3 separate regions of the Homo sapiens genome follow, and regions 1 and 3 are each reported to be linked to region 2. Evidence: microRNA targets listed by miRTarBase, many of them from high-throughput screens and not tested one by one. Region 2 holds a microRNA gene; each other region holds the end of a gene's coding sequence.

Region 1 (10,402 bases), not on the chromosome of region 2:
CAGTCAGCAGGCAAGGAAACTGGGGCTCAGAGAGGAGCAGCCGTGTGGGCAGTGGGGCCAAGGCCCAACTGTGACCTTGGGTCTTCTGTGTTTGCCCTCAGGAACCAGTGACGACCTGTTCCAGGACTCGGAAGGACGAGAGGGTTCAGAGGCTGTGGAGGAGCACCAGTTTTCGGACCTGGAGGACTCGGACTCAGACTCAGACCTGGACGAAGACGAGGATGAGGATGAGGAGGAGAGCCAGGATGAGCTGTCCAGACCATCCTCAGAGGCGCCCCCGCCTGGCCCACCACATGCACTGCGGGCAGACTCCTCACCCATCCTGGGCCCTCAGCCCCCAGATGCCCCCGCCTCTGGCACGGAGGCTACACGAGGCAGCTCGGTCTCGGAAGCTGAGCGCCTGACAGCCAGCAGCTGCTCCATGTCCAGCCAGAGCATGCCGGGCCTCCCCTGGCTGGGACCGGCCCCTCTGGGCTCTGTGGAGAAAGACACAGGCTCAGCCTTGAGCTACAAGCCTGTGTCCCCAAGAAGACCGTGGTCCCCAAGCAAAGAAGCAGGCAGCCGTCCACCACTAGCCCGCAAACACTCGCTAACCAAAAACGACTCATCTCCCCAGCGATGCTCCCCGGCCCGAGAACCACAGGCCTCAGCCCCAAGCCCACCTGGCCTGCACGTGGACCCAGGAAGGGGCATGGGCGCTCTCCCTTGTGGGTCTCCAAGACTTCAGCTGTCTCCTCTCACCCTCTGCCCCCTGGGAAGAGAACTGGCCCCTCGAGCACATGTGCTCTCCAAACTCGAGGGTACCACCGACCCAGGCCTCCCCAGATACTCGCCCACCAGGAGATGGTCTCCAGGTCAGGCCGAGTCACCACCACGGTCAGCGCCGCCAGGGAAGTGGGCCTTGGCTGGGCCGGGCAGCCCCTCAGCGGGGGAGCATGGCCCAGGCTTGGGGCTGGACCCACGGGTTCTCTTCCCGCCCGCGCCTCTACCTCACAAGCTCCTCAGCAGAAGCCCAGAGACCTGCGCCTCCCCGTGGGTGAGTTCCTGCCCCTGGTGGCTGGGCCGCTTCTCCCCTGTGGGTGCAGGGGTTGCAAGTTCACACCCTCCTGGGTATCACACCTGGAACTAAACAGCTCTGCCAGCTCAGTAGTTATTAATAATTTCGCAAACATTTATTAGGCACCTACTGTGCCATGCACCATGCTGGCTGCCCTAAATCAGCTGGCTTATTAAACTTTATTTTAGCCTCAGAAGCACAGAGCATGGACTCTGGAGTTCATGGGAAATGGGTTCTACCACGTATTAGTCCGTTCTTGTATTGCTATAAACAAATTCCTGAGACTGGGTAATTTATAATGAAAAGAGGTTGAATAGGCTCACAGTTCTTCAGGCTGTACAGGAAGCGTGGTGCCAGCATCTGCTCGGCTTCTGGGGAGGCCTCAAGCAGCTTTTACTCATGGCAGAAGGCAAAGCGGGAACAGGCATCTCACATGGCAGAGTGGAAGCAAGAGAGAGAGTTGGGGGAAAGGTGCCACACGCTCAAAATGCCAGATCTCATGAGAAATCACTATCTGGAGGACAGTATCAGGCCCTGAGGGATCCGTCCCCATGACCCAAACACCTCCCACCAGGCCCACCTCTAACACTGGGGTTTACAATTCAACACGAGATTTGGGCGGGGACAAATATCCAAACGATATCATATCACTTGCAAGGGGTGTGGCCTTGGATGAGGTTGTAAATACTCGTGCAATTCCCCATCCCCCACCCCATCCCCATCTGCCTGTGTTCTTTGAGCAGATGGCACAACTTAACCAAAACCATCACCATCTCCAATATCACTGTCACCAGTGCTCTCAGAGACACCACAACCAATATCATCCTTGTCAACCATCAGCACTATCCCCATGGCCAGCACCACCACTGTCACCATTGCACCAACACACCACTGCTGCCACCCCATGAGCACAGTCACCATCCCTGTCCCCTCAGCTGCCATGACCCCTCCACCGATAGCACCATCATTGTCAGCTGACCCCCTTCCGACACCTTCTCTGTCCCCGTGTTGCCATGACCCAGCCCTGTCACTCCTGGAGGAACACTGATCTAGGAATCTTTCCTTGATTTTTAATTTTGGGTTCACATTCAAATTCCTGGAGGTAGCAGAAGGGCAAAGAGCCTCAGGTGGGAACTCATGTCCAAGAGTGAAGCTGGGTGAAGACCATTTTAGGAACAGGACAGGCAGCAGACCCACATAGAGGCCAGGCTCATGGGTGACAACAGGGCCCCACGTCGCTCAAGTATCCCCTCCTTTGAAGACAGATATGCTGGCTAGAGGCATGGAGACCATGGGGCCTGAGCATACTCATGGTCACTGTCGAGCTGGAGATGGCCCATTCCAGAGATGGCAGCTGGCTCAGCATCTGTGGGCAGGGAGTCAGGAACTTGGTTCTGGGCTCAGCTCAGCCGGGACCCTGGACTCGCTCTGTGATCTTGGGCGAGTCCCCCTCCCACTTCCAGGCCTCGGCTCCCCATGTGCCCAGCATGTAACCTTCACCTTACCTTGTCTTGTTTTCTGACCCCAGCAGAAGGCCGAGTCCCGAAGTCCCTCCTGCTCACCCGGCCCTGCTCATCCTCTCTCCTCCCGACCCTTCTCCGCCCTCCATGACTTCCACGGCCACATCCTGGCCCGGACAGAGGAGAACATCTTCAGCCACCTGCCTCTGCACTCCCAGCACTTGACCCGTGCCCCATGTCCCTTGATTCCCATCGGTGGGATCCAGATGGTGCAGGCCCGGCCAGGAGCCCACCCCACCCTGCTGCCAGGGCCCACCGCAGCCTGGGTCAGTGGCTTCTCCGGGGGTGGCAGCGACCTGACAGGGGCCCGGGAGGCCCAGGAGCGAGGCCGCTGGAGTCCCACTGAGAGCTCGTCAGCCTCCGTGTCGCCTGTGGCTAAGGTCTCCAAATTCACACTCTCCTCAGAGCTGGAGGGCGGGGACTACCCCAAGGAGAGGGAGAGGACCGGCGGAGGCCCGGGCAGGCCTCCTGACTGGACACCCCATGGGACCGGGGCACCTGCAGAGCCCACACCCACGCACAGCCCCTGCACCCCACCCGACACCTTGCCCCGGCCGCCCCAGGGACGCCGGGCAGCGCAGTCCTGGAGCCCCCGCTTGGAGTCCCCGCGTGCACCGACCAACCCCGAGCCTTCTGCCACCCCGCCGCTGGACCGCAGCAGCTCTGTGGGCTGCCTGGCAGAGGCCTCTGCCCGCTTCCCAGCCCGGACGAGGAACCTCTCCGGGGAACCCAGGACCAGGCAGGACTCCCCCAAGCCCTCAGGAAGTGGGGAGCCCAGGGCACATCCACATCAGCCTGAGGACAGGGTTCCCCCCAACGCTTAGCCTCTCTCCAACTGCTTCAGCATCTGGCTTCCAGTGTCCAGCAACAGACGTTTCCAGCCACTTTCCTCGAATCATCCCACTTCCTCAGCCCCATCTGTCCCTCCGTCCAGGAGCTCTCACGGCCCCATCTGTTGTACCTTCCCATGTATGCAGTTACCTGTGCCTTTTTCTACACCTTTTGTTGCTTAAAAAGAAACAAAACAAATCACATACATACATTTAAAAAAAAAACAACAACCCACGAGGAGTCTGAGGCTGTGAATAGTTTATGGTTTTGGGGAAAGGCTGATGGTGAAGCCTCCTGACCCTCCCCGCTGTGGTTGGCAGCCACCCACCCCAGAGGCTGGCAGAGGGAAAGGGGTACACTGAGGGAGAAAGGAAAAGGAAACTTCAAACAATATAGAATTAAATGTAAAAGGAAGCACTCCTGTGTACAGATGCGATCAAGGTTCCTGTTTATTGCCACTTCACCCCCCTGCCCAGCTCGTAGCCACCCCTCTCTGCCAGCAGAAAGGCCAGTGTCCCCAGGCAGAGGGGCACAAACACAGGCAGGTGACCCCCACCCAGGCCCCAGCAGGCAGGCCCAGAAAAACTAATCTTTTCCTTTTTTTTTTTTTTTTTTTTTTTTGCAAGAAAATAAAATGATACTTTTCCTAGGATTTCAACACAAAATAATAGGTGCAGGTAGAAGGAGGAGGGCTGGCTCCCCAAGGGCTCCTGGATACTCTGGTAGTCTGAGTCATGGGCCCATCCTGGCACTCCACAGGTGGGCAGGCCACCCCACCCACGCACCCCCACTCCAGACACCTCCCTTCTGCACCCCACCCTGGCCCCCTGGGCTGGGGAAGGAGCCCTGACTGTCCGTCCCTGGCTCCCAAGCCCCTGACCGAGGCCTCACTCTCCTGTTGCCTCCTCTGTTCTAAAACCACCAAACCACCCACAAAGGCAGAAGTGGCAGGGCCCGAGCCCTAGCGGCCGTTCCTGAGACTGGGTTTTGGGTTTTGTTTCATCTTGGTCCCTGGGGTACAAGGGAGCCTGTTCCCCTCATGGCTGGGTTTTTCCAGTTCTCCACAGCAGAGGTTTGCGGGGAACTGTTTCAGGACCACTTTGCCACAGGACCGTTTCCCCCCGTCCCTGCCCCTGTCTCCACTACCCCAAGGAAATACCCACAACTGTGGCTGGTGGATACGGCCTGGACCTGTTTGCTGTCTTACACCTCTTTTTTAAAAAGAGAGAGGATGGTGTTTGATACTTCACCCAGCCACCACAGATTCTTTTGACCTAGAGGATTTTTGAATTGTCCTAACTCGTTGGAATTCTCCAAAGCAATCAGTGTGAGCCAGTGCCTCTTCCTTACCCACATCTCTACTTTCAAGAAGCTGCCCTGCATTTCCTGGGGCAAAACTCTACTTTGTAAGAAAAATAATAGGACCAGAAATTTAAATCCCAAATTGAACTATGGAACTTGAACTCTAGCGTGTTCGCCCCAACTGGGAGAGGTGAGCTTTTTCCCAGTGTTTCAGAACTGATTTTCTTTACTTTCTACAAGGGAGGGCAGCACAGGGACTACGGTTGAGGCCCGTGAAGGCTGGGTTTGATGCCACCCTATACAGAGCAGGGACCTCTCTGGCTAATCCCCAGTCCTCAGCCAGGCTGTGTGAATCAAGTGCCTGCCCCAGGGCTCTTGAGCTATTGAAGCTGCTTGGGTACAGGACACAGTAGGTGGGGAGGGTTAAGACCCTTCTGTGAGTTCCCTGTGCGGGGCTGTACTTGCCTCTTCCAATTCGTGGCCTTTCCCTGCTTGGTCCCTACTAGACAGACAAACCAGCCACAGTCCAGCCTGCAGCCAGACCACCTTGTTCACTCATTCTCCTTTGCCTCAGAGCTAAGACAAAAATGAGACAGAAGGCAGGGCTCCCTGGGAGTCCACTGTGCTCCAGGGTTCTGGGGAATCAGGGTTAGCCAGCAGCTCCTGGCTGCTTCCCTCAGAGACTAGGGCTCTCATCCTCCCCAAGAGAAGCAGCAAGCCCAGCCTGGACCACACTGTCCATATTGCTGGACAGTGGCCTGACAGAAAGTGACTCCTCCAAGTCCCAGGAGGCCAGGGCTTTTCTCATCCTTGCCTTTCAGCCCTAACCCATGGGACTGCCCACGGATTGGAGACTTCAAGGGCTGAGGTCTGGGAGCTGCATAAAGGGCATTGCTTCAGCCCAGGTTAGAAATCTGCCTGGGCAAGCTCTTCCTGCCCCAGACCTACAAAGCAGCAGACCGGGGGCTCTGGTGGACTAGCCCCTGACATTGGTGGGGGGCCCCACACCACTCCACCCCACCCTGCCTTCCAGCTCTCCTGGGCATTTTTCTCCCTGTACTCAAACAGCCTACCCACCCAAGGTTTCCTCCCTGGGCAGCCTAGCAATGAACAGTGCAGCCGGCAGGGCAGAGGCCCGGCAGTCACCGGGCCCGTCAGGCTCAGGCAGAGAAGCCACAGGGGCCAGGAGTCACTGGAGACTATTTCTAAATGATGGGGGTAAATGCACAAATAGAATCTCACCAAAGGGCTGCCTCCACATTGATGCCGTGCCCAGAGGGACAGAACCAATGCCACCAGCCTGGGTATATGTCACTGGGCACAGCTCTAACCCCCTCCTCCGGACTCTAGTCCCGCTCCTCTGCGCACAGAGCCCCCAGCCCACAGGTACACCTTCATGATTTGGAGAAAGACGCTCGCCCCATGCACGCCCTCCTCTGGGCCTTCTGCCCTGCTCCCAGTCACTTCCAAGCTTCCTGTTTGCCTGTGATGTTATTGTGCCTGTTGAGGGAAGCAGCAGAGGAGGCAGTGGCTGACTTGGCACAGATGCCTGCTACGTGCTCTGTTGAAATGCGCGGGGTGGCCATTCCTCGGTACAGACTAGTCCTGGTCCTTGGGTGTGGGCAGTGGGGGAGGAACCAACTGGTCGAGGTTTCAGAGCCAAACCTTGCCTTTGGTTGGTGAGTCCTTGCCCCCCAGGCCTGCGCTCCACGATGCCTTTCACCCTTGGCAATCTCAGGGCCATCCTGGGTAGTAACCCCACTCCTCTCTGCTCCCGCCCGCACCTGTGGCTCTCACTCTGGGCTCAACCCCTGCAACCCTCCAGGAGCCCGACAGCAGCCAGCTGCCTGCACTGTCGCCTCCGTAAGCTCCAACTTCCAGACCCAGAAGTCCCTCTGCTTCCCTCTGTTGGAAAAAGCCTAAAAGAATTAGCTTCCAGATTCCTCTAGCCCCTGCTCCATTCCCACCCAGTCCTTCTGAAGAGGAATGAGCAATACATCTGAGCTGGATTTCTCTCTAGTCCTTTCTCCAGACAAATCCTTCTTAAAGCAAAAGTCCTGGCTGAGCACCTGTCCTTGGGGACCGATCTGCCGTGTGACCAGGGGAAGAAAGTTCCCGAAAGCCTGTTCCACCAATTCTGCTTCTGTGTTGTGAATCCAGTCTGCTTTCCATTAGAAAACCGCTTCGGCACTTATGGTCACTTTAATAAATCTAGTATGTAAAAAAAGAAAGAAAGAAAAGAAACAGAAAAAAGAAACGTGCAGGCAAATGTAAAATACAATGCTCTCTGTAAGATAAATATTTGCCTTTTTTTCTAAAAGGTGTACGTATTCTGTATGTGAAATTGTCTGTAGAAAGTTTCTATGTTCTTAAATGGCAATACATTCCAAAAATTGTACTGTAGATATGTACAGCAACCGCACTGGGATGGGGTAGTTTTGCCTGTAATTTTATTTAAACTCCAGTTTCCACACTTGCATCTTGCAATGTTGGTATGGTATATATCAGTGCAAAAGAAAAAACAAAACAGAAACAAACAAAAAAAAAAAACAAAAATCCACGCAGGTCTAAAGCACAGAGTCTGACGTACAAAAGGAAAAATGCTCAGTATTGATGTGTGTGACCTTTGTTGTAAATTACATCTGTACTGTGAATGAGAAGTTTTTACAAGTATAATAATTGCCTTTATTACAGCTCTGGCTGAGTGTTCAGCCTGAGGATATTTTTTAAAAAAAAAAGAATTAGCATGTTGGAATAAATTTGAAAATCCCAACATAGCCCTGCTTGCCTGGCTCATGGTTTTTCTAGAGGGTTCCACAATGTCAGAGTTGGAAGGATACTTGGCATCCCAAGTGCTCATTTTGCTTCAGAGCAGTCAGGCCAAGAGAGCGGAGGTGACTAGGCTGCGGTCACACAGCCCAGGACACTCTTGCAGACCCTGGAAAGGCCTCGCGAGGAAGCACCAGATATAGCACCATGTGGTTTGGGGCCTGTATTTGTTCCCTAGTCTGCTGTGACAAATCACCACGAACTAGGTGGCTTTAAACAACAGAAATTTATTCTCTCACAGTTCTGGAAGCCTGAACTCCAAAGTCAAGGTGTTGGCAAAGTTGATTCCTCCCGGAGGCTCTGAAGGAGAATCAATTCTATGCCCCTCCTAGCTTCTGGTGGCTGCAGGCAATGCTTGGCCTTCCCTGGTTTATACACTCATCACTCCAGACCCTGCCTCCACAAGGCCACTTTCACAGATTCCAGGCTTTAGGACATAAACTTAACTTTCGGGGGGACCCCCATTCACCTCACTTCAAGATGAGTAGTGAATTGGTTCTTGAGTGTTGGCAGTGGGGGAGGCACAGCGCTTACTGCCTGTGAGACCTTGGGCAACTCACCTAACCTCTCTGTGCCTCTGTTTCCTAATCTGTAAAGTGGAGGGTCATGATCCACATCTATAAGGGCTGGCGTGGGGATTAAATGAGATGGCATATACAGGGTGGCTAACACAGCCTGGAACATAGTAAGCCTTCAACAATTTGTTTCCGAGCAGGCTTTGCACAGGGTTCTGGGGTTACACGGGCGGAAAAGATAGGGAGTCCTCACCTTCTGTATTCAGCAATGATTTGCCGAGTGCCAACGAGAGGCAGTCATTGATACAACAGCGAGCAAGACAGACACAGATCCACCACGAGGAGCTCACATTGTAGCAGGGGAGGCCATCATCAGTTACTCAATCACAGCGGCCATCACTGCTGTGGTGGAAGAGAATGACAGTGCTAATCCAGAGTGAGTCTGCATCACCCAGGGGACTTTTCCTTGGAAAAGTCCTAAGGGTCGGGAGGACGAAGGGAGCCATGAGAAGGAGATATTAATGGACGATCAAGGGGGATTCTCAGGGTAAACGCCGTCCAGAAGTTTAGTGCTAAGAGCCTAAGAGGGTCTGTTCGTTCAAAGCAATCAGAGGATGAATTGTTGCCGGCTTTTGGGAAAGCTGGACTAGTACAGTTCCTGGCGCACAGTGGGCCCTTCATAGATGCTGCTGAGTGTTGAGTGAATAAATGGTGGCTGTGGATGGTGGTGGTTGAGGAGTGAGGGCAAGGTGGGGAAGTGGAGGTAGCAGACACAGACACCTTCTAGGGGCCTAGGCTAGAGACAGGGGAGAGCTGGGGCAGTTGTTGGGGGGCGCGTGGAGTGCAGGGAAAGGAAGCTGAGTGTGTGATTGGCTGGTGAGGAGATGAGAATTCAGCCTGGCTTGATGAAGAGCAGATGTAGACTCCTCTCCCACAGTGGCCTAAAAGGAGGGGAGGGAGGAAGTGCAGATGAAGTCAGTGTGTCTATTTGGTGACGGGAAGTTGAGGACACTCTTAAGAATGGATTGTATGTGGGAAATAGAGTGAAGTCACCTGAGGAAGCTGCTGGGTGAGAAGATCAAAGACACCTGAGTAGGAGTGAATGACCTTTGAGGGGAGCCAGAGGAAGCCGCCAGGGAAACAGGGAAGGCACCTGCATAGCATCACGGGCCGGCTGCCCTCTGTCTGCTCAGCGGTGTGGTTTTTCCAGCAGTCCTCAGCCGCTGGCTGTAGGCATGGGGAAGGTGGCCCAGGGTTAGCCAGGCCATGGGACACAAGGACAATGAGTTACTGGAGGTGAGTCACTGGCGAGTGAAGAGGTTGAAGCCACCAGCCACTGAGCCCACACGCTGAGAAGGGAACAAAGAGGCCTGGTTGATAAGGAGAAAGGCCAGTGGTCAAGTGACCACTTGGATGAAAACAGGAAAATGTTGTGAGTTGTCTTAACTCGTTGGATGAAGACCGTGTCAGCCACAGGTGTGGCTGAGGTGCGATGAAAGAGATCAGGAAGTGAGAGTCCAGGGTGCTGAGTGGGCTGTGCAGGTGGCAGATGAGGCCATCACTGAGGATTGCAGGGCTTAAGTGGAGATCCGGGCTGTGAGCCAAGGCCTAACAGTCAGGATGGGTTCTGTTACGCAGCAGAAACCAGCAACCCAGACACTCAGTGGCTGAATGCAAAGGGAAGTGTATTTCTTTCCCTCACTATATGTTCACTGTGGGTCAGCAGGGGAATTATGCTTATCCTAGTCAGAAACCTAAACTGATAGAGGCTCCTTCCCTGTGCTTCCATGACCCCAGGGGCTGAGGCAAATACAGTACTCGTGGCCTCCTACTGGCAAGTAAATGCTTTTACGTGGAAACTACAACTATCCCTTCCATGCATATTTTGCTGGCTAAAGCAAGTCACGTGGTCATGCCTAATGAAGGAGAATGAGAATAATTGGAAACAGCCGTAATGATAATCATACAAGGCTAGGACTTCTCAGAATTGGAAGAGGAGATGAGCAGATGTCAGCGATGGGAGGGAGGAGGGCCTGACAGTGTTAGCCTCAAAGGTGCTGGATTTTTACAGTGAGTGAGTGAAAAAAATACAGTTCAGAAGAGGCCCTGGGAGCAAACGTGGCAGCTGGCTTTAGAATCATAGGACGAAGAGCCATCGTTGGAGCAGGTGCCTGGGGAGCACGTCCTTGGGTCATGCGGGGGGCATGTCTCAGTCTAGGCCAGTGGGGAAGTAGACCCCCCGCATCAGCCCCAGAAGGAGAAGAAGAATAGCATAGTATGTGCTAGGCCCAGTGTCCAGCATTTTACAAATTTGATTTGTAGTCCCTACAACAACCAGCAAGATGAGA
Region 2 (10,402 bases):
TGGCACAAGTGTAAATATGCCTGTTACACGCCTGGGTTATAAAATCTGGGAGGAACAACGGCGCTCCTTTCCTCTCTATTTTTCTTTTTCTGTCTTACCCTCCTCCCTTTCTATCTCTACCACCCCTCCCCCAACACAAAGACCCTGTAATTCTAATTAGAAGATGAATATAAAGCTATTAGGAAAAAATCCTGACTTTTAGGGATTTGATATGTTGGATTTTATGTGGCTGGGCTTGCTGCAGGGGAGACGACCATAAATTCTGCAGTGGTTTTACCTAAAATTGTTTTTACCTTGAAATAGCTCTAGGGGAGTATAGATGCTGCCTCATTGGAGCCGATGCTGAATATAAATCTTCATATTTCTCTTTCTGCCCCCTCCCATTTTAGAGTCTGGGGAAAAAGGAAAAAAGAAACCTAGCCAAAAAAACGTTAAGGTTTGACTTTGGCTCTTTTACAAACAGATGTTGCTTGTCATTCTCTTGTTGTTAAGCAGGCACCAGATTGGATCAAGCAGCAGTTGTGTGTGTGTGTGTATGTATGTATGTGTGTGTGTGTGTGTGTGTGTGTGTGTGAGAGAGAGAGAGAGAGAGAGAGACAGAGAGAGAGAGAGAAAGAGTTAGGAGGTTGATGGAGGGCTAGAAAGCAAAATAACCAGATCAATATTTGGGACAAGTTGAGAGCGAGAAGTAAGGAAAATAGTCTAATACTTTTTTTCTTTCCCAACTTCAATTTGGTGAAGAGTATATAAAATCGTCTTCTAGTTGGTTGGTTGTTGTTCCAAACAAAGAGAGACATGTGGAAATCAATAGACATGGAGAGCCCTAGGTGGAGAAACGCTGACCTGCTGGGTGAAATGCAGAGAGACAGGGGTGTGTGACTTTTCCTCTGAGTGGATCTGCACCCTGGAGTAAGAAAAAAGGTCTTTCTGTTTCAGCTGAACATCTTTTCTTGGGTTTGAAGGTTGCTTTTTTTTTTTTTATAAGTATCATTTTGGACGTTCCAGGCTCCTCTATAACTTTCCCAGAACAAGACTCCATTGTCATGCGGTCAAAACCCTCAAGAAATACTCACTCTTTACATATTATGTATCTCTTTTCTTGCAGGATTCAATCTTCAAATCTTCCCAAGCCATCCTATCCACCCACTTTCTCATCTAATTGTGAGATACTTTCTCAAGAGCAAAACATAGCTTTGAACAGAAAGTGTTAAAGTTGGCTGGTGTCTAGGAAGCATTTATATAGCATATAGTTCACTTCTATTAAAGAGATGACAGTCATCTGATTTTTAAAAGTACGTGTCTGATGTTTCTATGTCAGAATCAAGGTCTTGTTATTTTTTCAAATTTCAATTCTCCTCCCCTGCTTTATTAGCAAAATAGCTAGAAAGGAAGTTGTAGGCTGGCATCATTGTTTGCATTTTAAAAAGGAAGAAAAATTGTCATCCTGAGCAAACTTATTCCTTTCAAAAGTGAAAGTAGTATACCTTAGCCAGCGCACACGATACAACTTGGTACTGGCAAAGTCTCTCTTTTGTTTCATCTAGTGTGTCAAAAGTGAATTTGCCATCAATTTCTCACTCTCAAATAGTTGATTTCTGTTATATGCCTGTTTTAAGTGAATATTAAGTGGGTTTAAGATTTTTTTAATTACAGAAAAGTAAGCTCACTATTCAAATAGTCTAAGAGTGTCTTTTGTTTTCATCCGATCTATCTTCTATTATACCATTTTCCATCTTTTCTCTTTGCTTGATCTACACACACTTGCATTTATCATTTTCATAAAATATTGTTTAGTGTGGGCAGGGTGTGGTGAGATGAAGATTATAAATATCCATCAATCTTCAGTGTTCCATTTGCTCGAAAGAAACATGAAAGCCATGGCATTGCTTTGCCATTCTCCTCGCTCCCTACTGCCTTCTGGCCAGTTTTTCCTTGTAAAAAGGAATGAGTTCTACCTAAGCTAACTGGTTTTGATGCCAAAAGCCTCTGCGTCATATCCTTGAGCGCTGCTCCCACTCTGTGGTCTGATATCCTTGTGGCAATGTCCCAGGTGGATAAAACGTGGCACGACAATTGGCACCAATGAATTACTCTTGGAGTAGCAATTGCTGGATGTGCCTCTTTTGTTGAGGTGATTGGATCTTTTGGCAAAAACCAGTGACTGCAAAGGATGAGAGAAACGATCAGAAAAACTGAAAAGCTGTAGGAGACCAAACACTAGTGTCTCCCCTGCTTCAGGGGACACCCACTGTCAGAGTGAACGACAAAGGTTAGATTTGAACAAGCTTTCTTTCTTTCTTTCTCTTTCTTTCTTTCTTTCTTTCTTTCTTTCTTTCTTTCTTTCTTTCTTTCTTTCTGTTTCTCTTTCTTTTCTTTCCTTTCTTCCTACTTTTTCTTTCTCCTTCTTTCTTTCTCTTTCCTTCCTTCCTTCCTTTCCTTATTCTTTCCTTTTTTTCCTTCTCTTTATTTTTTCTTTATTCTCTATCTTGCTCTTTCTTTCCTTTCTCTGTCTCTGGCTCTTTTTCTTTTTCTCTCTTTTTTCTTTTCTCTCTCTGTGCCGCTCTCTTTTCTCTTTTTTTCTCCTTCCTTCCATCCTTCCTTCCTTCCTTCCTTCCTCCTGTCCTTCCCAGATAAAAAATATTATCTGGTCAAACTGTCCCATCTGTTTGGGACAAAGGAGATCCACTGAGATTTTGTACAAGACGTACATTTTTAAAAAGGAAGGGGGGTAGAGGGCAGGAAATCTTTCCGTTGGTGTCGTTCTGCTGATGTCACCATGGATTCAGTGTTCAAGTCCACAGCCAGGCAAAACTCAAATAAATTTTCCTTTTTGCAAGCAGCTGCACTGTGAGTTCGCCTTCCATTAGTAAAGGGACAATGAAGGGAAGGCGAACCCCGCGTCCAAAACATGGCCAATGAAAGGACACTGGAATGGAAGCCAGGAATCCTGCTGTGGTGGAGAGGCATAGACTCATGAGTCCACCACAATCGGATACTTGCTTCTTTTTAACAGCCCTATCAGCCGAGAGAAATAATGACTCCTGAATCATTTGACAGTAAAAAAGTTAAAATGATGTCTCAATGGCGCTGCATCATGCCAGGTAATCACTGCCCAATTCATTGATTATTCCTTAAACTATTCTTAACCATAGATAGCCTATCTCTTCATCATGCTTAGCAAGTGAGTGGTTTGGTATAAAACATTTGTACAAAAGTATGGGAGTATTCCGAGACTTCACATTCCTATTTGATCATTTTTCTGGTAAAATTGTTCTCAAGGTCCAAGCGTAGCCAGGGGAATTCCAGGAAAGATTTGTGAAATTACTTATTTGCAGAACCTATTTATTATGCGTAGTTCTGGAAATGAAGTAAACATAATGGTTCCCGATGTTTTTCTAGAAATAGTTTTATTTCAGTTTTTGTTTTTCTTTTTACTCTTGTTCTAGTGTTACTTTCAACTTTACAAAAGAGTTGGGTGGCAAAAAAAAAAAAAAAAAAAAACAACTGAAAAACAAGTAAAAATTCTTAACCCATTTTAAAATATTGTAAATGTCTTATTTTCCAGACGCGCGTGGATGATTTGAAGATATTAGCCTAACAAGATGGAAGCAGGTTTAAAATTTTACATAAGAAGTTACCTTTTTCAGGTAATGGTGTTTTTCTGTAATTTTCCCAAACCTTTCGCTTCCTCAAGTATTGCAAATTTTTAGGGCATGCTTGAATGATTTAATTATGAAGAATAACTACATTTTAAACTTAATTTTTTAAAAAAGAAACCAGTTTTATAATTTTCCTAGCCAAGGAGTAGAGCAGGCATGACATTCAACTCTATGGAGTTTGGAAAATTTTTAGAAATTTATTACTGAACAGCACTTGGTTTTTTGGATTTGAAAATTAAGCCATAGAGCTACAACTAAATTCTGTTTTGCCAAACTTCACAGCACCAGCAGGCTCTGAGCAATCATAAGCATTTGAAACTAGCAGGCACTGCCCCTTAACTCTGTCGCTATCTTGGGCATTTGAATGAAAAAATATAAGTATTACAGGATTGGCTCTAAAAAGCCTACCATGTGTTCTGAATTCCTGGAAGATAGAGCTTATATAAATTACATAATAACAATATTGATTTTTTTTTTTACTTTAGTCATAGATTGGCAATACTATATGGCACTTTATGAAACTATTCCCATGCATATATTCAGTGAGTAGGATTTGATCTTAGCTTTCATGATACAGGCAGTTTCCTTTTAGTGTCATTGAAGGGCTTTATGCCACCTAAAAATGTTTAATAACATAAATTATATATTTGCTTTATAAGTTACATTACTCGGCCTTTGTCACTGCTTATCAGCATTAACCCATATTTTCCAACTTGTTAATATTACTAAGAGAGCCCACGGATTCTTGCTTAATGAAGCAAGCCAAAATTTCTTCTGAAAAAAACCCCTCATTTTCCTCCTCAACACAAAGAAGATTCTTAAAGGACGTATTCAATTAATACTTTAAGAAAAATATCTACTCCCAAACAAACCATCCCTTTACTAGGTCAGTATTTGATTTTCTTCTCGTTTTTTTCCTGCAGCCTGGGTATCTTCTGGTTGCTCTTTTATTTTCTAAAATGGAAACTTTGGATTGTTTGGAGGTTAACACTACAAACCATTTGAAATGAAAAACTTCTCTCTGTTCTATATTTGCCAAGGAAAGGGAGAGCTGCCCCCAGCTGAAACGCAGCATTGAGCTCCTTTCTGTGGAGGTCAAGAGCGCCATGCAAATTTATGAAAGTGGTGCTATTTGAATGTCTCAGTGTACCACTTTGATAGATCTTAGTCTATCGCTAACAAATATTGTATCGTTCTAGTAAGCGTGATGATAACAATTCATTCTCATTACTCTGGGACGTTGGGCTTATTCTGCTCCATTATAATAGGAGCACCTACATCCCCCACATTCCAGCAATATTTAACAGGGTTCAAAGTGGCCATCCTCAAATACCTCTAGCCCCATGCCTTTGTCAGAGAGACGGAAGGAAAAGAAGCAGCTCAGAGCTTATTTAAAAGTCTTTTATTTTAGAAAGGAAATGAACATTTTAAAATAAAATAAATAAAGACCATCTGGGGGTGACTGATTTGGATACTACTTACTTCCACTTGCTATTGTTATTTCTTTGGATCTGAAAATTAAGCCACAGAGCTACAACTAGATTCTCAGTTTTGCCAACCTTCACAGCACCAGCAGGCTCTGAGCAATTGTACCACAGCTCACTTGTGATGAGATGGGGAAACAACAAAGTATCTATGAATGGTTATGTCTCAGTTTCTGTTCATCGTACTGTTGGTTTCCTGTTCTCTTTATTTAACTTTTTAGGTTGCATACACGAGGGCCTGCTCTTTTCTCTGAATAATTCCTCAATTCAGCTCTGTCTTTTTTTGTTCCCCTTGGTAGGGCTTCAGTTCATCTCCCAGATTCTTTTTTTTTTTTTTTTTTTTTTTTTTTGAGACAAAATCTCACTCTGTTGCCTAGGCTGGAGTGCAGTGGCACAATCTCGGCTCATTGCAACCTCTGCCTCCCAGGCTCAAGCAACTCTCATGCCTCAGCCTCCAGAGTAGCTGGGATTACAGGCGCACGCCACCATGCCCAGCTAATTTTTTTGTATTTTTAGTAGAGACAGGGTTTCACCCTGTTGGCCAGGCTGGTCTTGAACTCCTGACCTCAAGTGATCTGCCAGCCTTGGGCTCCCAAAGTGCTGGGATTACACACATGAGCCACCAGTGCCTGGCCCCAGATTCTTGAGAAAGGAGTGAATGTCCATTTTTTGAGGCAAATGAGATAATTATTTTGAGAGCCAGGATCCATAATTATAGCTAACAAAAGTTAAAAAGGTCTCTTTTTAGGTCCTGTAAAGGGATGGAGTCATGTGTGTTTCCCAGCATCTAGGACAGGGAGTTATTTAGCTGTATAATATATGTCCCTGAAGTGCTTATGATTATGCCTGTCTTCAATACAATTCACAAAAGGCGTCGTTAATGAAAGTCCATTGTCTTGGATGTTCCCTTCTTATATGTAGAACATTGGCTTTGCAGAAAAAAAATGTTATGTTGACAAATGCAATCATTTTATAAGAAGGTCTCTGAAACAGATTCATCCCTGTTTTTTCAAACAGTATTGCGGGGGGCGGGGGGTGCGGGGGGAAGGAGGAACAACTATGTAATTTCTTCTATGGTTCAAATTTTACAGAGTACACCCAAACTTGCTCATTGTTGGTGTTTGAATCAATAATAAGTGTGGGGATGGGATGGGGGTGGGAACAAAAATGCAAACTTTTCCCGAAGATGGATCTTAATATACCTGAAAATCTACTCTAGAGTGGTTTTCAAAAAAAAAAAAAATATACCTATAAATCCGTTGGTAGTACTTGCTAAGTTTATTCTAGTTGTTTTCCAGAATGCAAATAGGAAAATGAAAATTTCACCATCATTTTTAATGTAATGACAGGTATTTAAAGGAATGGACTTGCATTTGGGCTCTCATGTGTTCTTTCTCTCTGCCTACAATTTAAAGAATTTTCTTTATTCTGCTGGTTTGCCATTTTGGTATCACTTTGCCCAGATTATGTGTTCAGCAGTGAATAAATGAGTCTTCCATATATAAACAGTAAAATGATGAGGTTTACCTAAAGTCCACTGGATTTGTGGAAAAAGTGGAAACCAAGGGAAGCACGTTGGGGAGAACATAGAAGATATTGCTTAACTTTTGCTTTTGTGAGAGTGGGACGAAGTCCTTTCCATTTATGGCATAAAACAATTGAATGGTAGACTCTTTTATTGGATTAATGGTTGTAATATTTTATTTTCAGACATGTCACAGCCCCAAAAGAGAGAAGATATTGAGGCCTGTTGCCACAAACCCGTAGATCCGAACTTGTGGTATTAGTCCGCACAAGCTTGTATCTATAGGTATGTGTCTGTTAGGCAATCTCACGGACCTGGGGCTTTGCTTATATGCCATTCAATATCCCTTCGAGTTATTTCATTCTCCTTCTCTTCCCCTTAGTTTCCTTTAAGAGTGATAAAAATGGAAAAGGGGGCTGAGGTGGAGGAAGGAGACCTTTTGTCCTGAAATGAATGAGGTTCTTCAATGATGAATTAATAGGCTGGCCCTCAATTCCCATATCTCTTGTAACTGGTCTCTGCTGTCAAATTAGAAGGCTGAGCTTACAGGTGAGGCAGCAAGAATTTGAGTGATTGGAACAACTTACTGTTGAGTGATGAGTAAAGAGATAAACAAGGGTTTGTTTTGTTTTCTGTAAGCCTAATTGTTTTCAAAGTTATTATGATATTTTCTGGAAAGTGGCAGATGTGTTTACAGGACCAATTTCACCGTGATTTGGGTTTTTGGGTTTTCCTTTGTTGCAATTCTTCCTCCCCCAATTTCCCCAATAATTTTGCTTCTGAAGATAAGGACTGATAAATCAGAATGGATGTGTTTAACTGCCTAACTATTTATACTTCTATTTATATCCAGCAGTGTAAGAAGGACTTCTTATAAAAAAGAGATCGCCTGTTTAGGTCCAAATTCATATTTGGCCAGAGCTGTTTTATAAGTCTTTATCCTGTTTAAAACGCTGGAATGAAAATAATTTTATCCTCTTGCCTCTTAAATGTCACCATTGTGCCAGGATTGAAAAGCTAAACTGACCACAGATCAAAGCAAAACTGGCTATATTTGTTTCATTCCAACAATGTGAGCTGAGGAGTCTGTAAACAGAACTAGAACCCAGGGTGAAAAGTTGATCAGATTTGGATGACTCTAAAACTTTTGCATGCCCTTTTGGTAAAACATAGTGCCAGAAGTTCCCTTAAGATGTGTGTGTGTGTGTGTGTGTGTGTGTGTGTGTGTGTGTGTGTCCTCTTCTAACAAAAAAAGTCAACATGAAGTAGTTGGTGGGTTAACATTAGAGAAAAGTTTGAAATTCAAGTGGATAAATTCTGTCTCCTCTTAAGACCTACTCAGGAATAACTAAAACTCTTTCTTTTATCCAGTATATAGAAATGAGATTTTGCATTTCCGAATTAGGACAGCCTAGATACAGATGACATATGTATAAAGGGTAGAATTTGGAATTCTGTAATTGCTAGACCAAGACGACATTGTTTCCATGCATTTCCTTTGCATAGCACTGAGGAGGGTTGTCTATGGTGCTCAACCCCCTGCTTGCCAAGAAAGCATTGCTTTATTATAGAATGATGGCATATTACAACCCAAAGTGAAAGACTGTCCTCATTGGTGTGTGTTGTATAAATTGTTTGCCTAAGGCCTTTATCTACACAAAAAGCAAACAATTTGCTTGGTTAGTTTTATATGCCTCTTTGAAGTGGTTAACTTGGAATGAATAAACTGCTAGCAAGTTAAATCAGTACCTCCACTAGATAAATACTTGTTTGATAACGGCAAAATCACATCTCTACTCATCATCCTTTAACCTGCTGTTAAGTGTACTACCATGGGATTAGCGGTGGAGTTCATGGATCCATGGGGACCATGAGCTCCCAGTATTCCCCGTACAGGAACAATACTGGGACTGCAAAATGGCCAGTGGGTGACTGCCAGATTACTTCTTTTAAGGAGGTTTTTAAAAACACATTATCCCAAGAAAAAAAGATTATATAGAGCAGTTGGCCCTTTCAAAGTTTCTAAACGGCTTCAAACTTTGATTCATCTGGTTAGAAAATATTCTAATGGGAAGCCCAAAGCCCCTGGACATTGGCCACAAGAAACAGGATATTAAATATTTTACATGATGAAATTCAGTATTTTTCCCTCCTTCCATGTTCATGAATGAATGGTTCTGTAGATATTAATTATTCCTTTGAGGCTCCCTCAGAGTGTACCAAATATCCTACAGGAATCATGCAGAAAGTAAAATAATTTCAGAATTTCCCCAGAAAGGCTTGGAAGAAATATTTCAACAGCTATTATTGCATGGAGGAAATGGAATGGGTATAAAGCAAACTAGTTTTATTAAATTTCTCAAATCATCACTATCAAAATATATTTAAGATGTAATACCAGGACATGGTTTAGATTTGTTTTTTTAAAACAGGAAAAGAAACTTATTCCGAGAAATGCATTTGATAAAGCAACTCACCCTGAGCAACTCACCCTGCAACATCAGAGTTTGAGGAGGGAGAAGCTGAGATTTAGCTTGAGAAGTTTTCTTATTTATATTTCAAAATTAATAGATGTATTTCTTTACATGGGAAAAATGGTATGTGTATGATAGAATTAATTTTGAATTTTAAACTAATATGATTTCTTAGTTTTCCAATGTGCTTACGAATCATTCCTCAATATTTGTTAGGTCCTGTGGATCCTTATCTGTTGACTATGGTATTTAATCCCATCAAATGCCACCTAGGCTCTCTAATTAAGATTTTTAAAGCCTCTACTGCCTGTAATAGCACTGAATTTGTACAGAGAAGTCGATGTGAATGACTCTTCAAAGATATTCAAAGATTTATTAGAACCTAACATGGTAGTTAATAAAGTATGAATTGGAAAAAAAGTCACTTTTTACATTGGGCATAGCCGTAAGGCTAGAAAAATTATGATTTCTTCATTCTCTCATTCATTCAACAAACCTTTATGAATGTTTACTTTGTGTTCAGCACTTTGCTAAAGGACAAAGATATGACTCTGGCTTCAAAAAACTAATTATCTGATCAGGGGCCCCTTTGAAGAATTGCGTGTCAGCCATACTGACACATGTTTTAATGAATCCCATGTTTTAATCAAAACATTTGTCCAACTTCCAAATGCCTAATCAAATATAGAATATGTTTACTAATGGGGTGTCTCTGCTGTTTCCTAATCTCAGACACTCATAGCATTGTTTGAGGTTTATCCTTACTTCGTTTGGAGGATTGCTGCTGGCAGCACTTAAAACCTCGGTGTTTGATAGCATGAGAGTCTGTTTACACGTGTTCAGAGAATGTATGGAAGATTTTTTTTAAGTTAATAAGTACAATAGATTGTCTCTACCTGAAGATATACTACTGTTGTTCACCTATAAATACTACTTCTTGTTTTATTTTTCACTCGTACTTTTCGATAAGAATTTTTATGACATCATTCCATATCATAATTGCATGTTGTTATTACATGCCTACAAATATTTACACTAATTATGTAATGAGCCATAATTGCACTAATACATGATAATGGGCTAAAATCAGTGTAAATAAACAAGGAAATTCACAACCAAAAGAGCAGGGTATTGAAAACCATTAGTATTCTAAGAGCAGCATCTTTATATCTTTGACCCCCAGAATAAGAACGTACATGGAAAAAGATCAATTTTTCCATTTCTGGGTATTTAAAAGCCCTCTGAACTGTATGTTGTGGC
Region 3 (9,670 bases), not on the chromosome of region 2:
ACAACTCAAAATTAGGCAAATTGGAGTGCACTAGAAGTTTTCCATTCTAACTCTAAGCCCTTTAGAGCAATGTATTGTCTATTGTCTTAGCTTTAGCTGTTAGCACTTGTTCTGTTTCACGCCAAACTCTAGTCATACTGAAATTCTTTCACTTCTTAAATCATATCAAGCTCTTGCCTACACATTACTTTTTCTCACTGTCTAGACTCCTTTCCTACACATTCTTCTTCCCTTTGTGTGGCTAACTCCTACTCATGCTTCAGACTCTAAACGTTCTCATGGAAATCTAGGCTAGTTAGATTAGATAACCCCTGCTTGCCTGCTTCCAAATGTTAACCAAAGACCATGAGATCTGTAGAGGGAAAGGAGTAGAGCTTTATTTTTTATAATTTTTTTAAATCTATAGATTGGGGAGGCATGCTTTTTAGTACAAGTGGAAGTGTGCTTTCTGGATAACAAGGAGAAGGTTCAAGATTTTATGAAATGGGAAAATGTTACATATTGCTCTTTGAGAAATTTCATTAGCACTAGTAAGATTTTAAGGTTCTAGCAAACTCTGATAGGTAAGTGACAGCAGTGGGCAAAACTAGTCAGAGAGTTTGAGCAGCTTTCAGCAGTTAGATCAAACTGGTTTCAGGTTATAGCAGGCAGCTTTAGCTGCCCAGCTTGCAGAGAATTACATCTTTTGAGCAATGTTTTGTGCTGGGTGCTTTCCCCCCACCCCACCCCCTCCCTGGCCTCCCAACTCTGTTTTAGTTGAGTGACAAAAATGATCCAATTCATATGATCAACTTTCATGCAAATAACTTTGGTACATCTCCTAGCAATATTTTATTAAACTTACTTATTTCTATCTGTTTTATTTACTTATCAATGAGATACACAAGATGAGAAACTGAAAAATGGGAGTGGGACAAGGGATCTTGAATGTGAAGAGGAGAATATGGAAACGAAGATTAGGCAGAACCCTGAAGAAAAAGAAGCCCCGCAACATAGCAAGAGAAGAAATATAGGCAGGAAAAAATCCTCTTCTAAAGGGAAACAACGAAGTTGTTTCTAAACAGCGAATACCAGGTAGAATTTTCAGTTGGTTCCTACTGGTGTGTCACTTTTAAATCTTGCATTGATTCTATTATGCTGAATACCTATGTGTTAATATGCACTGGGAGTTATAAAAGAGACCAGAGAGATAATAGCAACTATAGGTACCCAGAGCAATTGTTAAGAAGCTAAATGACATAGGAAAAGCAGGTTGCAATGTGAACTAACTAGTGAGAAAATAAGAGAAGACTTTCTTCCTCACTCTAAATGTCCTATAGCATATTTTCTAAATACGAAAGAAAGAGGGAACCCTTTGTGACTTCAGATCATCTGGAATATGCAAACCTGATTAATGAAAGTATCTCAGCCTATGTCTTCCTTGCAGTCTTTAGATGTCTTACTAATACCAGTGTTTTCACATAGATTGATTGGCTTTGAATCAATTCAATAAGCCACCTCGTCTAACTCTTCCCGTCAAGGCTAACAGCTATAATTTTCTCTAAAGGCTACTGGGAATGAGACCCCAATGCTTTAATAAGAGTGTGTCTCAACTTGTTCTTCTTCAAAGATGTCTCAGATATTCTTGAACCTTTCACTTCAAGACAAATTTTAAAATCGTCTTGACAAATTACATACATAGATTTTGGAAATTATATTAGAACTTCATTGGATCTGTAAATTAATTGGGAAATAAGTGACATCTGTTTTACAAGATTTATTTCCAATTCATGCAACATGTTATATTTACCTTATTTTTAGGTTTCCTTTGATGACTTTTTTTGTAACTTTTATTTTAGGTTCCAGGGGATGTGGGCAGGTTTGTTACATAGGTGAACTCCTGTCATGGGGGTTTGTTAGACAGATTATTTCATCACCCAGGTATTAAGCCTAGTACCTAATAATTACCTTTTCTGCTCCTCTCCCTCCTCCCACCCTCCACCCTCTGTCTACTCTGTTGATAGTTTCTCTTGCTGCACAGAAGCTCTTAAGTTTAATTAGATATCGTTTGTCAACATTTGCTTTCGTTGAGATTGCTTTTGTTATCTTTGTCATGAAATCTTTGCCCACTCCTACGTCCAAGATGGTATTGCCTAAGTTGTCTTCTAGGGTTTTTATAGGATGATCTCCAATCTTGGGGATTTAATAAAGTATAATAATATTCTTCACACATTTCTTACACAGCTTTGTTAGATTTATTTCTTGTTGATTTAAATGATGATGCTAGTTTATATAGTATGCTTTAAGCTGCCTTTTCTAATTGTTCCTGGTATACAGAGAAGCAATTTGTTTTTATAAATTGTTTTCATACCCAGCAAAATTGTTTAAAGTTAATCAATTATCTTTATATAATCTTTTGAGTTCTACCTTTTATTTTTTTCTTTCCCAATTGTTACTTTTTAATATCTTTGTTCCTATCTTCCTGCATTGCCCAGGACTTTCAATAAAAAATTGAATGGAAGTGGTGATAATGGAAACCTGTTTTGCTTCAATTGTATATATTACTATTTTTAAATTAACTCTTAAGTCTTGAGTATGCTGTGATTTTTGTTTGTTTTATTGTAACTTTTATAGGTTTAAAGTAGTTTCCTCTCATTCCTAGAGGATTTTTTTTCTTTAAAATGATTGGATGTTAAGTCATATCCCAGGTTATTTCTGAATCCATTGAGATGATCAAGTTTTTTCTCCTTTACTACCTTAATATCATTTGTCAATGCTTGTGAGTTTCATTAATTGATCTTCAGTTATTTAAGTTGTATTCAGTTATTAAGTTGTATTGTTTGTTATGATGTATTAAAATCTTTAAATGTTTTTGTCTTAATACTGTGTTCTTTAAAAATTTTTGTAATGTGTTTTTATGAATGAGTTCTGATAAAATTGTGTGGCTTACTTATTTTTTTCTTAGTAGAAATATTTTAAAATATTGATTAATATGTCCTTGATTGTTATTGAATTCTATAGATTTTTTTTAAATTCTTGAGTTAGATTTGGAAATACAATATTGTAGAAATATGTCCATTAATCTCTTTTCAAATTTAGTGCTGTTAATCATAGTTTGTTTTATTTTCAATTCAATTTTATCAATTTTATTACTCTTTCAAAACAACCAACTTGTGTAAATCCTCTGTTGATGTATTAATGCTTTGCTCAGTTCTTTATTACTTTTCTATTTTTATTATTTTACTATCTTTATTCTTTTTTCTAATATAATCACTACAGTTGTAAGTATAAAATACTTACTAGTAATATTAAATTAATTTCATTAAACAGTTTATGTTTTCTATTGCTGCTAAAGAAAGTTACCATAAACTTTGTGGCATAAAACACCACCAATTTATTATTATAAATCTTAGGATTCTGAAGGTCAGAAGTTCTCAATCCAAAGTGTAGATGTGTTATGTTCTTTCTGGAGCCTCTAGGAGAGAATCCATTTCCTTGCCTTTCCAGCTTCTAAAGGCACCTGTATTCCTTGACTCCTGGGCTTTTCCCTGTAACACTTCTTTCCTTTCCATGATCACATCTCTTTCTCTGTATCTGACCATCCTGCCTTCCTCTTATGAAGACCCTTATGATTATATCAATTACATCAGGCCCATACAAATACTCCTGGATAATTTCCAATCTTGAAATCTTTAACATAATCACACCTGCAAAGTCTCTGGCTGTGTAAGGTAACATATTCAAAGATTTCACGGGTTAGAGCATGAACATCTCTTGGAATGCCATTACTCTATCAACTGCACACATGTTTTGATATACAGTATTTATATAATTGTATTCTAAAAATTTTTGAATTTTCATTCTGATTTTCTTTGCACAGATAATTTATTTAGAAGTGTTTATTGTTTTCCAAACATATGGGCTTTTTAGTACTTATATTTTTGTGGTTGAATTCTAAATGAATTGAAAAATATTTGGATGATGTGGTCTATATAACATGAATTCTTTGAAATTTGTTGAGACTTGTTTTATGCCTCAGAATGTGATAAATTTCATAAATATTCTATGGGCAGGGTCTGCTTCATGGGTGTGGGACCTGTATACTTGTACAGGGCTCATGTTCAGAAGGGTTCCATGCATGTGTTATTGATTTGCTATCACAACTGTTACTATTACATTTTTAATAATTTTTGAACACAAGTTCCTACATTTTTATTTTGCATTACACTCTTCAAATTATGAAGCCGGTCCTGTCAATGGGGACTTACACAACAATGTATATCCTAAAGTTGTTATCCACCATGTCTCATACATATCTCTTAGGTCAGGCTTGATAATGTGCTGTTAAAATTTGCTAAGCCCATGTTGCTTTCTGTCTTCTTGGACAATCAATTACTAAGAGTTTATTGTAAGTCTCCTATTGCAATGGTTTGTTTATGTGTTGCCTGTTCCTTCTAGTTATAAGAATGTATACATTATATATTTTTGATATTCTTTTATTAAGTGCACAAAAGTTTACAATTGACAAATATTCTGACAAATTGAACATATGCCAGCAAAAATACCTCTCAAGAACAAACTTGGAATTAAGCTTCCTTTGGACAACCAATGAGAAAATTTGTCTTCACCAGACCATCACTAAACTAAATTCTAAGGATGTCTTTGTGGCAGAAAGAAACTGGTATAAAAGGCCTGAGACATAACATGAGAAAGAATGGAAAACAAATGAATTGATAAATATTCAGGTAAATCTACATACCTACGTACAAGCAGACTTGTGGAGCTCTTAAAAAGAAGTGAACTTAGAGCTATCTATGACAAACCCACAGCCAATATCATACTGAATGGGCAAAAACTGGAAGCATTCCCTTTGAAAACTGGCACAAGACAGGGACGCCCTCTCTCACCATATCTATTCAACATAGTGTTGGAAGTTCTGGCCAGGGCAATTAGGCAGGAGAAGGAAATAAAGGGTATTCAATTAGGAAAAGAGGAAACCAAATTGCCCCTGTTTGCAGATGACATTATTGTATATCTAGAAAACCCCATTGTCTCAGCCCAAAATCTCCTTAAGCTGATAAGCAAATTCAGCAAAGTCTCAGGATACAAAATCAATGTACAAAAATCACAAGCATTCTTATACACCAATAACAAACAAACAGAGAGCCAAATCATGAGTGAACTCCCATTCACAATTGCTTCAAAGAGAATAAAATACCTAGGAATCCAACTTACAAGGGACATGAAGGACCTCTTCAAGGAGAACTACAAACCACTGCTCAATGAAATAAAAGAGGATACAAACAAATGGAAGAACATTCCATGCTCATGGGTAGGAAGAATCAATATCATGAAAATGGCCATACTGCCCAAGGTAATTTATAGATTCAATGCCATCCCCATCAAGCTACCAATGACTTTCTTCACAGAATTGGAAAAAACTACTTGAAAGTTCATATGGAACCAAAAAAGAGCCCGCATCACCAAGTCAATCCTAAGCCAAAAGAACCAAGCTGGAGGCATCACGCTACCTGACTTCAAACTATACTACAAGGCTACAGTAACCAAAACAGCATGGTACTGGTACCAAAACAGAGATATAGATCAATGGAACAGAACAGAGCCCTCAGAAATAATGCCGCATATCTACAGCTATCTGATCTTTGACAAACCTGAGAAAAACAAGCAATGGGGAAAGGATTCCCTATTTAATAAATGGTGCTGGGAAAACTGGCTAGCCATATGTAGAAAGCTGAAACTGGATCCCTTCCTTACACCTTATACAAAAATTAATTCAAGATGAATTAAAGACTTAAACGTTAGACCTAAAACCATAAAAACCCTAGAAGAAAACCGAGGCATTACCATTCAGGACATAGGCATGGGCAAGGACTTCATGTCTAAAACACCAAAAGCAATGGCAACAGAAGCCAAAATTGACAAATGGGATCTCATTAAACTAAAGACCTTCTGCACAGCAAAAGAAACTACCATCAGAGTGAACAGGCAACTACAGAATGGGAGAAAATTTTCGCAACCTACTCATCTGACAAAGGGCTAATATCCAGAATCTACACTGAACTCAAACAAATTTACAAGAAAAAAACAAAAACCCCATCAAAAAGTGGATGAAGGACATGAACAGACACTTCTCAAAAGAAGACATTTATGCAACCAAAAAACACATGAAACAATGCTCACCATCACTGGCCATCAGAGAAATGCAAATCAAAACCACAATGAGATACCATCTCACACCAGTTAGAATGGCAATCATTAAAAAGTCAGGAAACAACAGGTGCTGGAGAGGATGTGGAGAAATAGGAACACTTTTACACTGTTGGTGGGACTGTAAACTAGTTCAACCAGTGTGGAAGTCAGTGTGGCGATTCCTCAGGGATCTAGAACTGGAAATACCATTTGACCCAGCCATCCGATTACTGGGTATATACCCAAAGGACAATAAGTCATGCTGCTATAAAGACACATGCACACGAATGTTTATTGCAGCACTATTCACAATAGCAAAGACTTGGAACCAACCCAAATGTCCAACAATGATAGACTGGATTAAGAAAATGTGGCACATATACACCATGGAATACTTTGCAGCCATAAAAAGTGATGAGTTCATGTCCTTTGTAGGGACATGGATGAAATTGGAAATCATCATTCTCAGTAAACTATCGCAAGGACAAAAAACCAAACACCGCATGTTCTCACTCATAGGTGGGAATTGAACAAGGAGAACACATGGACACAGGAAGGGGAACATCACACTCTGGGGACTGTTGTGGGCTGGGGGGAGGGGGGAGGGATAGCATTAGGAGATATACCTAATGCTAAATGACAAGTTAATGGGTGCAGCACACCAGCATGGCACATGTATACATATGTAACTAACCTGCACATTGTGCACATGTACCCTAAAACTTAAAATATAATAATAATAAAATAAAAGAAAAAAAAAAAGAAGTGAACTTAAAATACCCAGCAACAATAGCCTATGAGCTAGAAGGTGGTTAAACGTAAAAGTTCCAAAATCCTTGTTTTTTGAGTAGGAATATAAAGGTAAATGTTGATACATTGGATTTGTTGAAACATCGATTGTTATTTTTCATCATTTCCGAAAGATTTTTGCCATTGTCACTTCAAATGTTGTCTCTGACCCTTTCCTCTCTCTTCTGCTTGTGACAATCCAATTAGACATCTATTAGAGCTTACACCTGTATCCTCTACGCCTTTCGACTTCTTTCTCCAAATTTCTACCTCTTTATCTCTCTTATAAGAATTCCAGAAGTTCTTTGGTTCTATTTTCTAGTTTTCTAATTTTATTTTCAACTGTGTCTAATTTGTTATAAAATTTATCCACTGAAATTTGTTAATTAAATAATTATGTTTTTACTTCTCAGAGTATTGTTTGATTTGTTTGCAAATATGCTTAGGCTTTAACCATATTTTAAACTTCTTTGCCTCACATTTATCAGTTTTACTCCTCAGTTACTGATAAGCAACTTATAATATGTACTCTCTTTCCTCTTTAAATGTCCAGCTATGCTAAAGCGCACAGACATACAAACCGGTTAATCGAAATCTGAAGACAGACTTATTAGCAAGATAGTATACAGTGGGGAGTTGAAAACATTTCCAACATTCTGTGGAGGACACTACTGTTTGTAACCTATTTCTGGAAAGGAGTTCTGTTTTCTAAAAATAAAAGTTTGTAATTTTCCATAAACAAAATGCTAAGGGGAAGCATTTATGTTTTCTAAATCAAAGTATAATTTTAAATATAAACAAAGAGAATCCCAATAAGCTAAAACTAAAAAAAAGACAAACACTTGATTACTTTGACAACAAATTATATTTTAAATGTTTCATATTTACTTTTATATTTCCATACAATCAGAAACAGTAAAAAAAATTTGGAGAGCACATAAAAACATCTTAAAGTTAAAAATATAAAGCCTTGTATTTAAAAATGCAGTCATTTAAATAATATTATAAGAATCTATTTGTACATAATAAACAAGTTTCAACCAGCAAGAAATTACTAATATTGACTGTGGAGTTTTGGCTGTTTTAATAGTTCTAACTCATTATTCCGTAATTCAACACAGCACTACCAACACAGCTGGCAATGACAAGACTGGGAGTATCAAACTAGGATTGTTAGTTCAATTAAAATTTCAGATAAACAATAATGTACTTATACTAAAAAATTATTTGTTGTTTATCTGAAATGAAAATTTAACTGGGTACCCAATTGTTTGTTTGTTTAATCTAAAAACCCTGATTGAAATTTATCTAATAAAACATCATTTAATATCTAAAATAAAATAAATTTACTATAACATCTTTATAACTATTCAATCAATGATTCATCTTCTATTTTTCCAAATTCTTGCACAAATATTTGATGCTTAAATAAATACATAAATAATAAATAGGTTAATAAGTTACACTTGAAAATAATTTATGTTATGATGAAAAAACTTAAAGTGCTTCCACATGTCCTCACAACATCACTGTGAGGTAAGATGGTGGCTAATACTTTTTCCACTTAGAAATAAAGGAGAAACCAAGGCACAGTGGAACAAGGACTTGTGGATCCTGGCTAGCAGACTAGGGTTGCCAGATTTAACAGAAAAAAATCCAGGATTTCCAGCTAAATTTGACTTTATGGCAAAATTTATTGTCCCATCATTTTTATGTGATGCTTCAAATATCACATTCTAGCAAACCCATTCAATTCCTGAAATTAAAGTTCGGATATTCTCTTGGCCCTTGGCCTCAATTTTGCTATTTGTATATTCTCCCGTGCAATATCTAGGAAAATCCTTATATTTAAAAATTATTTGTTGTTTTTTGTAGATTCAAATAAATAATACTTTACATATAAGTATGTTCTGGATATTTCATGGTACAATGAAAAACTATTCATTGTTTACTGAAATTCAAATTTAACCAGGAATCTTGTATTGCATCTGGCAACCCTACAACAGACCCACACAATACATGAAGTGTTGAAGTAGATTTGCTTGAAGTTTCACTGGCATCTTCACTGATTCTTGGATACCACAGAGAATGAATTTTTTTATGAATTCTCAGCCCTAAAATAAAATTAAAAATATAAAGATGAGCTATGTTTAATAAGAAGGAAAGTAGGGTTCTTGAAAAGTCAATATAGTCTTTGACATTCATGTGTTAGAAATGCTCTATATTCTCAACTATAAATAGGGAGATCAAAGAAATTATCATCTAAAATAGGACACTACTGGGAGTGACAAAGAACTTTACTAAGAGTATAGGACACAAGCTTAAACCCAGAATTTCCTGGGCAAACTATGTATGGTCTTTCTGGTCATGAGTACAACAAACTCACTATTGATGCTATTCCTTTTTTTTTTAACCAAAAAGGCAGATACCTAATGACGATTTTTAGCAACAGAAAGAAATTTATAGGCTGACTTTGGATTATATGTCTCAGGATAAATGAAAAATTTAAATTAAAAAATATATAACTTACCTCTTCAAAAACTTCTCCACAACCCTCTGCACCCAGTTTTCCTTGGGGTCCAGACAGAGCTCTCTTCCATCAGAAAGCTTTACACTGAAATAAGAAAGAAATGGTTCAGATTAATATTTAGTTTTTGCATTCAAATCATGATTCCTTAAGTCAGGCATAAAG

The links. The annotated mature microRNA hsa-miR-100-3p reads CAAGCUUGUAUCUAUAGGUAUG and lies in region 2 at 6,937-6,958, shown strand. An mRNA with a match to its seed (bases 2 to 7 or 8) in the 3' UTR can be bound and repressed. Matches are read on the target gene's strand: a 7mer-m8 pairs with bases 2 to 8, a 7mer-A1 pairs with bases 2 to 7 and ends in A, and an 8mer does both.
Region 1: miRTarBase lists HIVEP3 as a target of hsa-miR-100-3p. Seed matches in the 3' UTR shown: 7mer-m8 at 6,178-6,184.
Region 3: miRTarBase lists CXCL8 as a target of hsa-miR-100-3p. The part of its 3' UTR that is shown has no 7-base or 8-base seed match.

What each region holds. Positions count from the first base shown.
Region 1 is chr1:41,503,450-41,513,851 of GRCh38, reverse strand. HIVEP3 (HIVEP zinc finger 3) reads left to right here. Exons shown (of 9, transcript NM_024503.5): 8 at 102-1,036; 9 at 2,586-7,487. The coding sequence ends at 3,401. Among named protein-coding and RNA genes, the nearest start is that of EDN2, 24 kb to the right of the region's middle. RefSeq lists an enhancer at 324-824.
Region 2 is chr11:122,148,796-122,159,197 of GRCh38, reverse strand. It overlaps MIR100 (microRNA 100), which reads left to right and starts at 6,890; the gene lies at 6,890-6,969. It overlaps MIR100HG (mir-100-let-7a-2-mir-125b-1 cluster host gene), which reads left to right. Exons shown (of 5, transcript NR_137179.1): 4 at 3,566-3,647. It overlaps MIR10526 (microRNA 10526), which reads left to right and starts at 7,042; the gene lies at 7,042-7,095.
Region 3 is chr4:73,741,871-73,751,540 of GRCh38, reverse strand. CXCL8 (C-X-C motif chemokine ligand 8) reads right to left here. Exons shown (of 4, transcript NM_000584.4): 3 at 9,509-9,592; 4 at 7,825-9,092. The coding sequence ends at 9,077. Among named protein-coding and RNA genes, the nearest start is that of CXCL8, 6.1 kb to the right of the region's middle.